2 separate regions of the Homo sapiens genome follow, and region 2 is linked to region 1. Evidence: fine-mapped expression QTL. A gene starts in region 1. The other region holds a variant in brackets. All regions are shown on one strand. Distances are from middle to middle.

The links. PIP is the estimated chance that this variant, and not a neighbour inherited with it, causes the effect.
Region 2: its variant is fine-mapped to the expression of ARHGAP25 in monocytes (BLUEPRINT, PIP 0.93).

Annotation. Positions count from the first base shown.
Region 1 is chr2:68,731,605-68,739,939 of GRCh38, reverse strand. ARHGAP25 (Rho GTPase activating protein 25) reads right to left here and starts at 5,129. Exons shown (of 11, transcript NM_001007231.3): 1 at 4,680-5,129. The coding sequence starts at 4,740. RefSeq lists an enhancer at 135-364.
Region 2 is chr2:68,805,839-68,814,173 of GRCh38, reverse strand. ARHGAP25 (Rho GTPase activating protein 25) reads right to left here. Exons shown (of 11, transcript NM_001007231.3): 5 at 6,694-6,901; 6 at 755-887. Among named protein-coding and RNA genes, the nearest start is that of LINC01888, 22 kb to the left of the region's middle. The variant A/G (reference allele first, on the strand shown) is at 4,540.

The DNA of each region.
Region 1 (8,335 bases):
GCCAGACCTATGGGTATCATTTTTTTTTTCTTTGCAAAGTGACTTTTGGTTTTTAAACAAGCTTTCAAAGAGAAAAAGGATGATGAGTAAAGCATAACACAAAAAATGTCAATTATTTTCTCTCTTTGTAACTTTTGTATCTCAGTTCCTGTCTGGGGACTCTACAAAATTTCCATGCCATCCTCTGTGACAGAATCCCCACAATCTGCCTGTGCCTCGCTGTGGCTCTCCGTCATGCTCTTCCGGTACTATTTGGTCTCAATTGCTGTGGCCACCAGTGGGACTTTGCTTCTGCTCTTCACTCCCTCCCATGTCTTGTATCTTAACACAAGTTCAGACCACTCGACTGGGGTGCACCTTCATGCCAGATTCTTTCCTCAAGCTGCCTTGTGTGTGATAGGACCATTTTCATCAACTTACTTCTCTCAATTGGTCCCAGCATCTTTCCAACACCCCCATAGTGGGCCTTACTCAAAAGGATCACATTCCAGCTGGTGGAGTCTCCACAGAGTTCTCCCATTGGATGCTACATGAAGATGCTTCATAACTGTGAGGTGAGAGACAGGGAGATGGCAGCACTACCATTAATGAAGTGACTTATAGTGATGTATACCCACGCCAGGGCCATTGGGCATCTTAACCCTGGCCTAGTTTCAGACACATAGGCAATAAGAACCATCAAGCTAGCCTCTGCCAATCCAAGTGCACAGTCTCAGACAAAGTACAGAATCTAAGCTGACCTCATCTGGCATGTACAGGGGGAATTTTGTGCATGAGTGGATATAAAACCAGGTCCTGTTTTCCCATCACCACTTAGGTTGGTCCCCACTCTGCTGCTGCTGCAGAAGGCCCAGAGGTGACATCAGTCCTTTTTCCTCAAATGGCCAGAAGGCTGTTGGCCTGGGCAACAGGAAGCATGCACTTCGTGGAGAGAATTTAATTTATGCCTAAATGTTAAGTCAACAGCAACATTACGGACAGACATTTTTACTTAAATAACCAATGGCAATGTAACCTCTGCATAAAAATAGAGTGGGCCCTGGAAGGAACAGCTCCCTTGTGTAGCTGTTCACTGTCTACAGAAGGCCATGTTCATATTCTTTTTTTTTTTTTTTTCTTGAGACAGAGTCTTGCTCTGTCGCCCAAGCTGGAGTGCAGTGGCATGATCGTGGCTCACTACAACCTCCGCCTCCCGGATTCAAGCAATTATCCTGCCTCAGCCTCCCAAGTAGCTGGGATTACAGGTGCCCGCCACCATGCCCAGCTAATTTTTTGTATTTTTAGCAGTGACTCTACTTGCATGTGTGGGGACCTTTATCTATCGGGGACCTTTATCTATCAGGGACCGGAGGCTACTCATGGAAAGCAAATACTTTGGGCACAGCAAACAGACCACATTCAGTCCATAACCCAGGCTGGTCTGGTTAGCATATAGTAAGTTTGGTAATGAATTGTAAAGAAAGCACTCACCACTTTCTGATGTTCAGAAAGCTGAACATCAAACAAACACAAATCAGTTCACCATGGGCTATATAGTTTCAGGATTCTCCTGAAACTGGGGAACCAGCATTTCAGTGTTCAAATAAGGTACAAAATGTGCTCAAGTAGACTGGCCTGGTCATTGGGAAGCCATGTAACTCTTTCAAGAAAGCCCTGTAACCTGGGGCTGGAGGTCCAGAAAGTCTGGACCTGTCCTCCAGTGATGACAATTCAGTTAAAAAGGCAAAATATTTGAGTAACTGCGTGAAGGCAGTGAAAGGCTGTCATGATTCTAAAATTGAAAATGATAAAGGATCACAGGAAGAAGTGTGTGCTCTTGGCTCCACCTCAAGTCAAGACTGTTTGTTCTGCATTTTCCTTTTTCTTCCAACCCCTATTCCTGCCAGGATCAATAGGTCAGATTCAGGAAGTTCTGTGACTTTTCTTCATCACTGCATGAAAATCTGTCAGACTCATGGTAGTGGACTCAGGTGAGTCTGCCATCCAGCAAGACCCTCTTCAGCTCTGAGATGGAAGTACAGTGGAGAGTCCCTCCCCTCGCTCTCAGAGACTTTCACTTTCACTCCAGCTCACAAGATTCTGGGGAAACTGGAAGCATAGCTCATCAAAAAAAGCTAGGGCCCCTTTCCTGGGTCACATTCTGGGTCAGTGTCTTGCTATTTCACCAAGGGCCCATTCTAGTGTCCTTCCTAAGCTATGGCCTGGCTCCCTGAGGACAGATCTCAATAAAAGCCTCCAAAAAATTGAGCTACAGAGTGAATCATGAGTTAATATTTGGGTTCTAGTCCCAAATGACCTTATATTCCACCCTTTTGGTGATCATCTACTCCAGGAGTTCTCAATTAGAGAAGATATTACCCTCACCCCCATCCCCAAGGAACACTTGGCTATATGTAAAGACAGTTTTATTTGTCACAACTGGTAGTGGTAGGGGGGTGTTACCATCACCTAGAAGGTAGAGGCCAAGGATTCTGCTAAACATCCTATAATTCACAGGACAGGCCCCACAACAAAAAACTATCCAACCCCAAATGTCAATGGTATCTAGGTTGAGAAAACGTTAAAACCACAGATTGTCAGCTTTCCTGACATAACTCCCAGTTCCACAGGTCTTCCCAATAGAGGTAAGTTTCTTTGATATATTGGTAAGCCAGTTCCTACAGTTACACCTGGACACAGGATGCTGGAGAGGGGACTGGAAGTCCTGTGACTGAGTCAAGGGCTCTCCCCCATCAGAGGACTCAGATTATGATCTGAATTCTAGTTCATGTGACACTTATAAATGCATCCTACTGTAGTCCAGTCCTTCAGGGTGACAAACTTATAGATAGCATGGATAATGACAAGGGCTCCTCTGTATTTCATTATGTCCTTATTATTATTTTTTCATTAAGTAATACTAAATAACATCATCTGCTTGTTTTTGTTGGCTGAAGCATTCATTCAGCCAACAAATATTTATTGTGTGCCCAGTTAAGAACAAGCACTGTGCCCTATACTAAATGGGTGAAAACTGTCTGCTGGGGCTAGTGAACATAGACCACAGTACCTACAGCAGGAATTCTTCCTCAGGTGAGGATGAAAGTGGGGGGTGCTTGTCAAAATGCAGGATCCTGGGCCTTCCTCCAGAGATTCTGATTTTGTAAGGATGGTGCCCAGAAATCTGCATTTTTAGCCAGCACTTGATGTGAGTCTGATATAGGTTATCTATGGGACCATGCTTTAAGAAACATTGGTAAAAATCATGAAATTCACTCAATCAAATCCCAGACCTGAGTATATGCAGTCTTGAGCTCTAGTGTGGTAATTTCCTATATCTGTGAAAAAAATCATTTAACTATTAATTGTCTCAACTTTCTTGTTTTTTAAACCAAAGGAGAGTAAGACCCTAATAACCTGTGTTCAAACATAGGTGGAGAGAAGGCAGAATGACCTTATTTATGTAGAAGCAGGACACTTTCAAAGGAACAGAACCATATAATTTGTATGACATAGATTGAGCATTAGCCAAGTACATTTGTATCAATGATAGTTAGGAGGAAAATCTCTTGCTTTTGTAAGAGGTATGAACATTACCTTTTCTCTGAACTGACCTCAGCATACAATCATTCACAGCTTGATTAGGGAACGCTAATCTCCCCTAGTTATCAAGATAAATGGCTTCTCTGATTACTCTGTTTTCTTTCAAACCCTTTCTCAGACCTACATCATTAATGCTCCGCTTGTGACTTTTCAATGGAGCACTTATTTTAGTAGCACACTTAACCCCATTAGAGGTTCAAATCTAAACCTTTTTCCAAGCAAAATTCCTCCAAGCTGTTAGAAACACCTTAATACTTATCTATATCTAATATCAAGGAAGTTATCTCATGTATGGGTGAGATACATAAATGTAGGCAATAGTTTTCAGCCCGATTGCTCTGATGTGAATTACTGTGACCAATTTAGCAATAGAAGAAATCTATGTAAAGAACTTCATAACGAATATATAGATTAAACTTAATGTATCACTATCATCATTAGAAGGACAGGGTATGGATTAAAGGCCAGACTATCTCAGAAAATATGCCAGTCTCCCTTAAAATAATAAAAAATACATCTCTTTTCCAACTCATCTAAGAATTCCCTCCCATTCTGTTCCTTTAATTATATTTTTATTAAGTAAGGTCTTTATTATACTTTAGTACGTTTTTATGTTCCTGTCTTGTTTTTGTTGTCTACCTTTTGCTACTACCTTTTAATACACCTTGACTCCTGGGCTCACAAAACAGAACACCCATTGAATTTACTTACAGATTGAGCACTTCAAAAGACTCTAGTCTTTGTGCTCCTGTTCAGAACCATTCAAAATATGGATGAGTTTCCAAACAGGAAGGAAATGGAATATGCTAAAAACTCACAGTTTTGTGTGTAGTCTGTAGCCTTAAATCATCCGAAGTACCCCAGATCCTGCACACCAAGGAGTGCCATCCCACTGTTTTGTCCAAATGAAAGAGAACCCCCTCCCAGCATTTTAGAACTTGGACCTGGCATGCCAACTTAAATGCAAATGGTCCCTCAAACTCAGATTTGCTGCGAGATCCATTTTTAAGTAGACTATGCTCCCTGCAGACCAACATGCAAATGGTGCTCGAGTATACGTAAGAATCACAGAGGCAACGAAAAGACACCAACCATACCTATTTTCGCAGCCTCCACTTTCAGGTTGAAATCCCAGTTCCTTGGCAATTTTAGGGACATTTTGCTTCCAGTTTAAGTGAGTAGTTAGTGAAGCGGTGAGTCTGTCACAGTTTGCGCCCTTCTTGTCTTTTCACTCTTTCCCTCTGTTTTTGTGTCTGTTTTTGTTCCTCCTTATGATTGCTTCACAAGCAATCTTAGGCTTGAGGCTGATTTGCCAACGTGTCTCCTCCTTTCTCTTAGATGAAAGGTCCATCCATCTGTCACTGGAGGATGGCACCCAAACTCCCCCAGCCTCCACCCTCAGTCCCACAGGGGCTAGCACCCTGCTTTTCTTGCTTTCAGTTTTACCAGAAATATCCCAGTTGACACTTCCCTCTGCGTCATGGGAAGCAAAGCTCCTTTTCGAAAGAATCTCAGGCCTTACTGAGTTGAGGTCGTGATAAACAACTGCTGCCTCTTGGTTTTGTGTGTGTGTGTGTGTGTTTCTTTTTTAACTGTCTGCTTCCTTGCATTTGAGGAAGTGGGTGGCTGTTCAGTGAAGATGATACATTATGAGCACTCTTTCTTGAGAAAATGGTTTTTGGAAATGCTTGAAAAACCAGAATGGTTGCTTCTGTTATAAAAGATTACAGTTTTAATTAGAAGAAAATGTCGAAACTCCCATCATCTACTTCAACTCTAAGCTCTCCTCTTCCTCACCTAACGGATCAAGCATCCAAAAATGGTCAGAAAAACAACAAGCATTCCCCCAAAGTTATCTTCTTTTAAATTCTTCCTGCTGTAAGGACCATGTCGCAAGCTCTCCAGGTGCTCAGGATAAAGTTTGCAAGTGATCTCAGCCTGATGTAGGGAGGGTTTTGATGTATTTGGCTTAATGAAGCAACTTAAGCTAGGTCGACCCACTCACATATCCTAAGGGTTCTTTGGCATTGTACACAGGGTGTGGGCTTTAGAATCAGGGTGTGTGGGCTGTATACATGGTGTGGGCTTCCATTTGCTAGCTCTTCAACTTTTGAACAAGCAACTGAATCTTTCCAGACCTTAATGTCCTCATCAGTAAAATGGGGTTGATAATAACCACAACTCAAAGGGTTTTTGCAGAGGAATCTAGTGCAGAGCTTGACACAGAGTGGTTGCACCACACACATTAATTCAACCTTTATTCTATTCTATTTAGTTCAGTTCTGTGACAAGCTTTCATGTTTAACTGGGTCAGCCTAACCTAGTGCTTAAGCATTTGGGCCCTGGAAACAGATCACTGGTAGTCAAATCCTGGCTTTCCTGCTGTGGGACTATGGACAAGTTTCTTGACCACTTTGTGCTTCAATTCTTATCTGTAGATGGGGCAAATAATAGGGCTTACTTCATAGGCTGTTGTGAGGCTTTAGTAGAAAAGCCAGTACAAAGTGCTCAGAACAGTCACTGCTAGCCAGCATCTAAGCTGCACGCCTTGCTCCATTCATTCTCCAACTCTCCTAGATGACTCTGTCATACTTTCTTCTTCACCTGCCACTTGCTTACTCTTACTGACGACCTGGGTTCCCGTTTCATTGAGAAAATCAATGTAACTGAAAGAGAATGTCCACAAGCTTCCCTCACTCTATCTGCTCACCTACCTGCATGCAAGCTGTATCCCTGACCTTATTCTTGGTACAATGGGTGAACTGGCTGTTAACACTCTCCCATCCCTATTGCATCATCAATTTCTTCTCTCTCTTTGATCCTTCCTGTCAGCGTTCAAACTTACTATTTTTTATCCCATAAAAAATCTCTCTGGATGCCACCACCCCCTTGGGCTAGAGTCCCATTTCTCTCCTTCATTTCTGAACCAAGCTTTAGTAAGAATTGTCTAACTTGCAAATATCTCTCCTCTTATTCTCTCCCGAATCCCTTGGTTGATGTTTTTGCCCCTATGACTCCACAAAATATATTCTCATCAAGGATACCTACGACTTCCCTGTCACTAAACTCACAGGTCAGGGCTTCATCTTCATCTCACGGGCCCATCAGCAGTGTCGGACACATTTGATAGCTCTCTCCAACTCTGAGCCCTCTGTCCATGGGGCTCCCACGGCCCATGGTTGGCCTGGCTGTCTGCCTGCCTTTCTGGCTTTTCCGTGTCTGTTTTCTTGCTGATTCCTTCTCATCTCTCTGACCTCTAAATATTGAAGGAAACCAAGACTCGACTGGACTCTTTTTCCATCCACACTCACACCTTGGTGAGCTCATCTGTCTCAAGGCTTTAAATGTCACATATTTGCAGATGATTCCAATGTGTATTTCCAGCCCAGACCCCCTGAACTCCAAATCACATGGATCTCTGCTTAGATCTATAGTAGCCATCTCAAACTAAATGTATCCAAACTGTATATCCAGAGAACGAGGCTGAAGGAACAGTGGTGACCTGGTGTATACTCCTGTCTTCAGGAATGAAAGGAGCACAAGAGAGAAGAACCTTGCAAGCGCATTTAACGCCTCTGCGCACACCCTGTCTGCTCACATTCCATTGGCCAACACAGGTCACATGGCCAAGCTCAAAGTCAGTGAGGCCGGAAGTACACCCAGTCCTCAGCAGCAGTGGGGAGGGAGAAGGGCCGGAGGGGTGGAAGAAGGGCCGGAGTGTTTGCTGATCAAGACTCCAATCCACCACACTCACCCAGTCTACCCAGCTACCCTCCAGCCTCCCCAGGGAGCTGGATTCCGCTGAACTTGACTCAGCTACTTGGAGACATTGCACTACTGCCTGCCTGACCCAAACACCACTGCTCTTTTTCGTATCCCAACTTAATTAAGCGGGTGTGAGAGAGGTAGCTGTCTGGCCCGGCCCAGCAGCATCTCCACGGGGGAATTCGACACCATCTAAAATTTCAGTCCTGGGACCTTTAAACTGAGGAATGTTGAAAATATTTTGAAGGTGTCATTAAGAAACACGCAGGGAACTTCCTTTACTTTTCAGGGTAGGTTCCTGTCAGTCTTGGAAAAACTCGTGACCCATGGGGGAAGTTAGTTGTGCAGATGCGGAAAGGCAATCAGATGGAAAGCACACTCCCCACAAGGGCCCAACACAGCAGCCTTCCCCCACCACAGAGCTCTCTCTCGGTCAGTCAACTGGGTACTGCGCTCCCTCTCTCTGATCTTCATAAAATGAAGAGCCAAATGCCTTGCCTGGTCCCAAAGTTTGAATTAGCATCTGCAGTAGCGCAAGCAAACATTGTTCCATCTGTTGGCTTGTTGAATGATAAGCGGATTTATTAAGGACCAAATTTTTGCTGGACATTGGAAGAACGTTCGTGAACAAGCAGACGTGTTTTCTGCTTCCCCACCTCACCGCCCTGACACCGGCTGTTGTCTCTTACAGTCTGTTGGGGGAGAAGAACAATTAAGTGAACGATTAAATACAGTGTGAGAGAGCTATGTTGGGGAAAGTGTAGGGAGCTAGGGGGGGTGTATATGCGAGGGGCCTAACTGGACTTGGGGAGTGAAGGAAGGGTTCCTGGAAGAAGTGTCTTTTAAAGTAAGGCTTGACAAATGAGTTAGGGAGGCAAGGGGGTTGGAAAAAGGATTCCAGACAAAACCAACAATATGAATGAGGCACGGAGAGAAGAAAGTTCTTCAGGTCGCTCCTAAGAAGGATGAAAGGGGTGGGGCTGAGGAG
Region 2 (8,335 bases), 74 kb before region 1:
GCCAGAGAGGGCTTTTAACATAGTCGATATAAACATCAACTTCTTCATGGATCACTTGGATTTGAAAATCTTGTTTAAAAATCATCAAGGTTTATTGTTGTTGGTTGGGTTTCATCAGTTTCTTTGGTTGTTTGGTTGGTTGGTTGATTATAATAACATGACTACAGTGTGGTCATTGTTGACTATAAGGCCTCTCTAGAAATAAATTTATACAGGATCAAAAATCTTGTTAGTGAACTTGTGCACTCTCACAAGCATATTGCAGATGGTGGTTACAGACCCTACAGGCAGCTGTGGCTGAAAAGAAAAACAATCAAAAAACCCTCCCTGTCCTTCTTCTCCCTGGCACATGCATTCCTTGGATGACCACGCCTGACACTCACAGCTGCTGTAGAGCTTGAGCTATGTGACCTCACACCTGCCTTCCAGCCTGTCCTTGTGTCCCAGCAAGTCTCAGCAAGGCCATCATGCTTGAAACCGTCCTCCGATGTATCCTCCTTTTCTCACTACTTTTAATGTGATCTAGCAGTATTTGATTATGGTCCAATTCTTTATTGGATTATTGCATCTCATGAAGGCTGTGGTTTGCCAGTCATTATGATTGAGTTCATATACCTTTTGTTGCTGAGGAAGTTGCATTTGACTATCTTACCAAAAAGTACAGGCCCCTTGACCCACTGTTGCCTACTGGATTAGTGTCCAGAAAACCAATCACTTTCTTCTAAGGCAGGACAACTAACTCTAAGATGCAAACCTTTGCCTCATCCGCATTCGTGAGCTGCCCACAGAGCAGGAACCCTTCGTACTGGCTCCAGGGAACCACGGGCTCTGGGAGGTCTCGGAGGTAGAGCTTTAACAGGGAAGCCACAGTGTGCACATCTGTGTCTCTGGAAGAAAATAAGCAACGCTCTGTGAAACTCTTTGAAAGAAAAACTTTAGGATGTTCCTCTCTTCCATTCTGATGATTCAGTGAATAGAACCATAAATTACAAAGGGAAATTTTGCAGAGGAGTAGTCTGATAAAGAAGAATCAGACCAAAACATTTTTGTTAATTCGCCCTTCTGGAACAACATTCTTGAATAAATGTTCCTCTGTCTCTTCCACCCAACTACCTCAAAGGTAAGTTCAAGGTCTACATTTTTACTAAACGTTCCTTAATGATTTTCGTCTTTATTGCTTTCTTCTTTCTTCAAGTCATTTAGTGCCTCACAATTAGCATTGTCTAATTAGTCTCTAATATTGCTTGTGTTAACTCCTTTATATCCTTGGTCCATTCTTCTCTTTAATCTTCCAGAGTGCTTAAAATAGTTCTGAGGTTCACTCACGTATTTACTCAATAATTCACTCAATCAATAAGCATCAAGAAAACCTATTAGGTGCAAGATACTGCAAGATACTTGTCAAGCACTGGGATTTCAGTAGCCAATCCAAGGGACATCAGTAGCCATCCAATCCAGGGATGGAGCCCTGGCCCCATCGAGCCACAGAACTCTGGGGACTCAAGTATTAAAATGTCCTTACAATACTGTGCGGCTAATGCCATGATATGGGAAGCCCAGGACCCAGGATCCTATGGAAGTATGGAAAAAGAACACCCAAGGCAGAGATGGGAACACATAGGTGACTTGTCAGATGAAAGAGTACCTCAGATGAACTCTGAAAGGCGGTGAGGAGTTAGGGCATGAGGCAGGCAGCATGTGTGTCAGCCTGGAGCATGAGGAGAGGACGCCTCCCCGTGGGCCTGATTGACTGAAAGAGGCACGGCTGTTCAGTTCAGCTTCTCCATTTACAGGAGGGCTTGGCAAGCCACGGGCCAGGAGCCAAATCTGTCCCACTGCCTCTATTTGTACAGCCTGGGAGCTAAGAATTATTTTTACATTTTTAAATAGCTGGGGGAAAAAACACTCACAAGAAGAAGAGTGTGTCGTGATGTAAAAATTACAGGAAATTCAGATGTCAGCATCTGTAAGTAAAATTATAGAAGAACACCACCACACTTGTTCATTTATGTACTGAGCAGAGTATTATAGTTGCAATAAAGACCATCTGGCCTGCAAAGCCTAAATATTTAATATGTGGCCCATTAAGAAAAGTTTGTTGACCCCTGGCTTACAAGGCGATTGCATTGATTCTGCAACACTACAAGGGAAAATAAGATTCACTACCATATTCCTGAAGCTGATTATTGAAGAAATGTTTGTTTATTTCATATTGATAAAACCTGGCATTCTTAGGTAGCAGCCCTGGTAGCATCGTGAAAAGCTGTGATGTGGCAAGAGGTCCAGAATAACCTTGGAATCTCCTTGATTTCAGTGATGAGAAATATAGAATAGGCTGGAGAACATGTCTCCTGGTCCTAGGAGGGAAGGGAGGGGTGGATCTGGACAAGAGGAGGAGAAGGGAGGCATGTGAGGCAACAGAAGCAAGAATACTGGGGCTTGATTGTAAAGCTCTGTCTTGGTGCTTTGTGTGCATTTTACTTTGGTTTTGACAGCCAGTTGTTGTAGCTGTCTCTGAAAAGGCTTCCCCTTTGCAGCCTGTGAACTCTACCTCAATAGGAGAACACGGGCTGGCACAGAGCCCACTCTATGCTCCATGGCTGCCCTCAGGAAATCTGGGGTAGGAACCATTCATTTAACATGGGGATTCTGGAAAATCCTTCCCTGCTGAGTCACTGCCCAAAAATACCCAAGGCAAAGCCAGGCTAGAAAAAGTACTTTTGTCAAAATATGTTATGAGAAGTTCCCGAGAAAGTGGCAGAAAGACAGTCAGCTGACAATTTGCAGGAGCAGAATTCTCCCAAAGTCCAAAAGTTGCATCTTCCTAAAGTCCCTACACTGCAATCCACCCATTTGTCTCTATCAGCATCCTGGGACTCCTGTTTGATTGGGACCTCTCCTTCACCCCCATCCAATCAGTCTTCCAAATCCCTTCAATTCTATTATCCTAAAGTCACACTGATCCTTGTAAGCCTCTCCCCTCCTTTCACTACCCTATGCCTCCAGCATTCTATACTCTGCCCACTCTAGGGCACAGTCCTCAACACCAAAACACACCAATGGAATGAGTGAAGAAAACAGAGTTTGAAAGGGAAGAAACAGTGTAAAGGATAATTCAAGAAACTGGATCCTGGCTGGGAACAGTGGCTTATGTCTGTAGTCCCAGCACTTCGGGAGGCCAAGGCGGGTGGAGAACTTGAGGTCAGGAGTTCGAGACCAGCCTAGCCAACAGGACAAAACCCCATCTCTACTAAAAATACAAAAATTGGCTGGGCGTGGTGGCAGGTGCCTTTAATCCCAGCTACTCAGGAGGCTGAGGCAGGAGAATAACTTGAATCCAGGAGGCAGAGGTTGCAGTGAGCCAAGATCACACCACTGAACTCTAGCCTGGGTGAAACCACTGCACTCTAGCCTTGGTCTCAAAAAAAAAAAAAAAAAAAAAGAGAAGAAAAGAAAAGAAATTGGATCTTTTGAACTTTTGAAGAGAAACAACAACAATAAAAAAGACACCTAGACAGTTTAATCAGGAGAAATTTAGACAGCAAAAGCATCCATCATTAGAAAAGAGAAAGGGATTATAAATACAGCTACACCATGGATACTTCAAAGTTATAATAAAAGAGCAAAATTAGCTATATAAATCATCTTACAACACTGAAACTTACAGAAAGCTTCCCAGTTCATTTCACCAAAAATAATCCTGACAAGCCATGCCCACTGCTGGGCCTTGCTAACTCTCATTCTTGTTTATTGGGTCTCAGCTTAAATGTCATTTTCTTGGGGACCTCCCTAAATACACAAGACCATGTGAAAAGCCCCTGTTCTAAGTTTTCATAGTGTTGAGTTTCCTTTTTAGCACTTAACACCATGGAACTTAAACAATTATTTCTATAAATTTTTATTTTAATGTGAGCACCCCATTGTACTAGGGCTAACTCAGATGTCTATTTTATGGTCTAAATTTGTAGCATTATTTTTTCTGAGTTTGCTGTTCCTCTAACCCAATAGAGCACCCTTAAATGATTCTTTTTTTTTTTTTTTTTTTAATCAAGGGCTAAGAGTAAGTCAGGAGCCAGGTGGCTTCTGGGTTCAACGGCTGATGCACTAGGGATTACCCAAGACTCAGATGGTTCTGCCAGCCCTTCCCTGGGGGCATTGATGCTTGTAATGTGGCATGTCTGTAAGTGCATTTCTCACAGACACATAGGGGTGAGAAGTGTGTTAGCTTTGTAGCCAGGCAGTGTCCATCCTGGTAGAAACTTGGCAAGGAGATTTTAAAGTTCACATTTTTGTGTCTAAGGAGACCAGAAAGACCTGCACTAGTCTCACCAAACAGCAACTTTGCTCACCTTCATTCTAGTGAGGTAATGGGGGCATCTTGGGGTGGAATCCAGCACATAACCAATGCAGAGGATCTGGGTGAGTTCCCACAGCCGTGAAGTTGGGGACAGCAAGAGGGAGCTCCTTGCTCTCCCAAATACCCCTTCTTCCACCCACTGACTCCTAGAATTCCTTTTATAGGAGGCAGAAAAAGCTACA[A/G]CCATAGCTTCTCACTCCTGGTCTGCTCTTGACTCTGAAAACCCTCCCTTTCCCCCTTTCCTGCCCTCTTTCCACCCCCTTTCACACTGCCCCTCTTCAGAACTCCCACACACAATTCAGGTTAACACTGTCTCAAGGCTGGTCTCTTCCTCTCCCACTCCCAGGCCAGAATCACTCTCAGGAAATCATCTAACACTGGTCACTTTCACTTCAGAGTTAATTTGCCAGTTTTGTTGACCTGTCTTGAGTTATTGGTTTTGTCAATTCTATGATCCCAAAGTCAGCCTGATCCCTGTAAGCCCCTCCCCTCCTTTCCCTACCCTATGCATCCGGCATTCTATGCTCTGCCCATTGCGGGGCACAGCCCTCAACACCAAAACACACCATGGAATGAGAAGTAGGGGAGTATAAAAGGGGGTGGAGAGAGGGCAGAAAAAGGGGAAAAGAGGGTTTTCAGAATCATGAGTGGAATAGGAGAGAGAAGACCTGGTCTCTCCTAAATATGCCCAAATGTAACTAAATAATAAGAATCAAATAAGAGTCAGTCATACCTCCCAAATCAGACTTGTCCTCTCAAGGGTTATGTGGACCTAAGAGTTGCCCCTGCGAAGCCCCTGAAAAGCCCCCGATGACCTTTCCTATTTCTGGATGTGTAAAAACCCTACCCCTCACTTCTAGGGGTGGAGATGTCGCAAGGTAAGGTAATTTTCCTTCTTCCAGCCTCAAATATTTCAAAATAATCAAAGATTCCCACACCACCACCCATGCCAACTCCATAGTGCATAGGCTAGAGCCTAAGGCAGTTATTTGGCATATCCCAGCAATCACCTCTATTCCTTTTGGCACACTATATGGCATTGCTCTAGCAACAACCCACCTGTATCTTTCTTCAGGCCAAGGTTAACTGAAAACATAAAAAGAAACTGAATATAAAGGTGGTGAGCATAATGGAACAAGTGCCTGATAACAAGGTGCAGTTTATGGTGCTGCTGAAAGGTCCCTGTGTTTGATGCCAATAACGGGCTATTGTTCCAATAAGAACCCCATCTCTTGCTTCCTAGGGTGCTAAAATATAGCACCCATGGGAAATTAACTTATTAAGGGCAAGAAAGACACCCCTATGGTTGTCCAAACTACAACTGTGGCCATAAGCATGGAGAGAAACATATAGACCTCAGAGAAGCTTTGGAGGAAAAATGGGCGGCGTTGGTGATTAGAGTGAGGGGTGAGGGAGCTTCTACACAAGATGACACTTAGGTCTTCACAATTTTCTCAGAATCAACCCAACCCCATTGTCCAAAATAAGCTTAGCAACTTTCATTTTTGGAAACTGGGTAGAGTTCAGGCCCATCTTATTAAACCTTGGTTTATGGGCTGCTAATTTGGAAAGAGCAGTCAATCTTATGCCAGCAGGACAAGTTCACGCAGGCAACTGGGGTGGAGATTGCACAACATCGGGTGGGGATTTTACTAGCTGAGTGTGGCAGAGAAGGAAACCTCAGCTGAGTGGCTGGAGAAGGTGGGGAGGAAGGGGGTGGTGGGAGGAAATGTCACTATGCCTGATATGCCCCAAACAGGGCTGGGAGACCTCCACACTTAGGAATGCCAGGCGGCCAAGATATCAGGATGTGCTCCTGCAAAAGGGCTCAGAACTGAGTCAGAATCACGTAGTACTGTGATCCAGGAAACTAACAAGAAGTCCTGGTTCTAGCCACTTCTGGAATGCTAACGAAAGCCGCTGGTGCCCTTGGATATAGATCTGGTGCATTCTCCACTACACTGAGTGTTTGTACAGCTCAGCTCTTCCATGTTCCTCATCTGTCCTGAAGGGTGAGCCTCAGGCAACGTCCCATCTTTCTCCCCTCCTCTGCACATCACCTTCTCCTGTGCCTTAAACATCACCTGAATCTGCCCAGCAGGGTTCCAGTTCTGGTTCACATCATCTGTCACATAAACTATCTGCACACTCTCCTAACTGTGCTCCCGTCTCCCAAATTCCCAATCATGGGCGAAACAAAGGCTCTTTCTGTTGTAAGCCAGGGCTCTTAGAAGTCTCTATGCAAGTCCCATAGCTCAACTGGAATGGAGAGGCCCTCCCAGCCAAGCCAAGCAGAGGGGAGGGCAGAGGTGGGACACTGCAGTGGGGCAATGTACCTGTCAAAGGAGGGCCGCTCCCCAGCATCAAAAGCGTCTCTCAGCTGCTTCACCAGGTTGTCCTGCCCAGGCAGACGGAAGATGCCCTCTTCATTCCGGCCGTGCTCCAGGATGAACTCTGCACATTTCTCCACCAGGATGGGCACCAGATGGGGGCCGAATTTCTGTTCATAGGCCACAGTCTCATCCAAGCGCTGGCCAAACACTGCTGAGGAGAGAGCAAACAGAACCTGCCCGTCATTCTGTGCTTCCTTGGATGAACTATTTCTTGACTTTCTGTGTCACCTGTGTCTTCACAGGTTTTATTGCAATGATACTAGACAAAATATGGGAGATAAATCACTCAGAATATTTCCTGAAGCTATAAATAGGGGCCTGTAAATTTGAGGCAGTCTTTATCAGTCTTTTTATATTGACCCACATTTCTTACATATTTAAAATAATGGTTGGCTTTTACTGAATTCTTTTGCTAGGAATTGCACACTTTTTGTCCTTTAACCTTGACAGCAACCCCATGAGATGGTATTAATGTCACACGCACCTTACTGTTAAAGACACTGAGCCTTAGACACTTGCCAAAGTCAGGCAGCTCAGAGCATGACACAGTTGGGATTCAGGCCTAGGCAGTGAACTCCCAACAATATGCCTTAACCACGGCAGCAAGCAGGCCGTTTTGAGTTCCACTGGCGTCACAGAGTAGTAAAGCATAACACAGTATGGCATCCTCCCTTATCCACGGTCAACTGCAGTCTGAAAATATTAAATGCAAAATTCCAGAAACAAACAGTTCATAAGTTTTAAATTGCATGTCATTCTGAGTAGCATGATGAAATCTCTCGCGGTCCCGCTCGGTCCAGCCTAAGATGTGAGTCATCCCTTTGTCCAGTGTATCCACGTTATATACACTACTTGCCCAGGAGTCGCGTAGTAGTTGTCTCAGTTATACTTAGTAGTTGTCTCAGTTATAAGACTGAAAAGACATAATGTGTATAGGGTTCAGTACTACCTGAGATCTCAGGCATCCACTGCGGTCTTGAAATGTATCCCCCCAAGGATAAAGAGGGACTACTGTAGTCTATCACATAGATGTTTCATCTCACTAAACCACTGTGGCATTTAAAATAATTTAGGTTGTTTACTATGTCCTAATTATAAACATTGCCACAGCAAACACGTTCATTCACCTGGCAGAGATCCTGGAATGTATGCAGTACAATGCATAATTTCTAATTAATTAACATTTGGATGCATGAACAAAAGCGTTTCATTCTTTTGAACTATTTCCTTAGGACAAATTCCCAAGTGTAGAATTACTGGGTCAAGAGGTTTGAACATTTTTATAACTTGATGGCATGCAAATTGCTTTCCAAAAATATTTTCCCAAATTACCCTGCCTCCAGCAAAGCAAGTGTGGGCCAGCTCCACCCCAGCTCTGTCTGCGTGGAGAAACTTTGCTCCACAGTTTCCCCGCACCGGCAGTGTGAGAAGACAAATTTACAAATCAGGACAACCACTGCCTATCCATTCTCCCACCAGGCTTCCATACCCTGGAGGTTCAGAAGACAGGCCGTGGCTTCTGTCCTGTCCTGCGTGACTTTCCCTCTGCCATAATCAGGGCTCTGCTGCACCCAGCACTTCAATC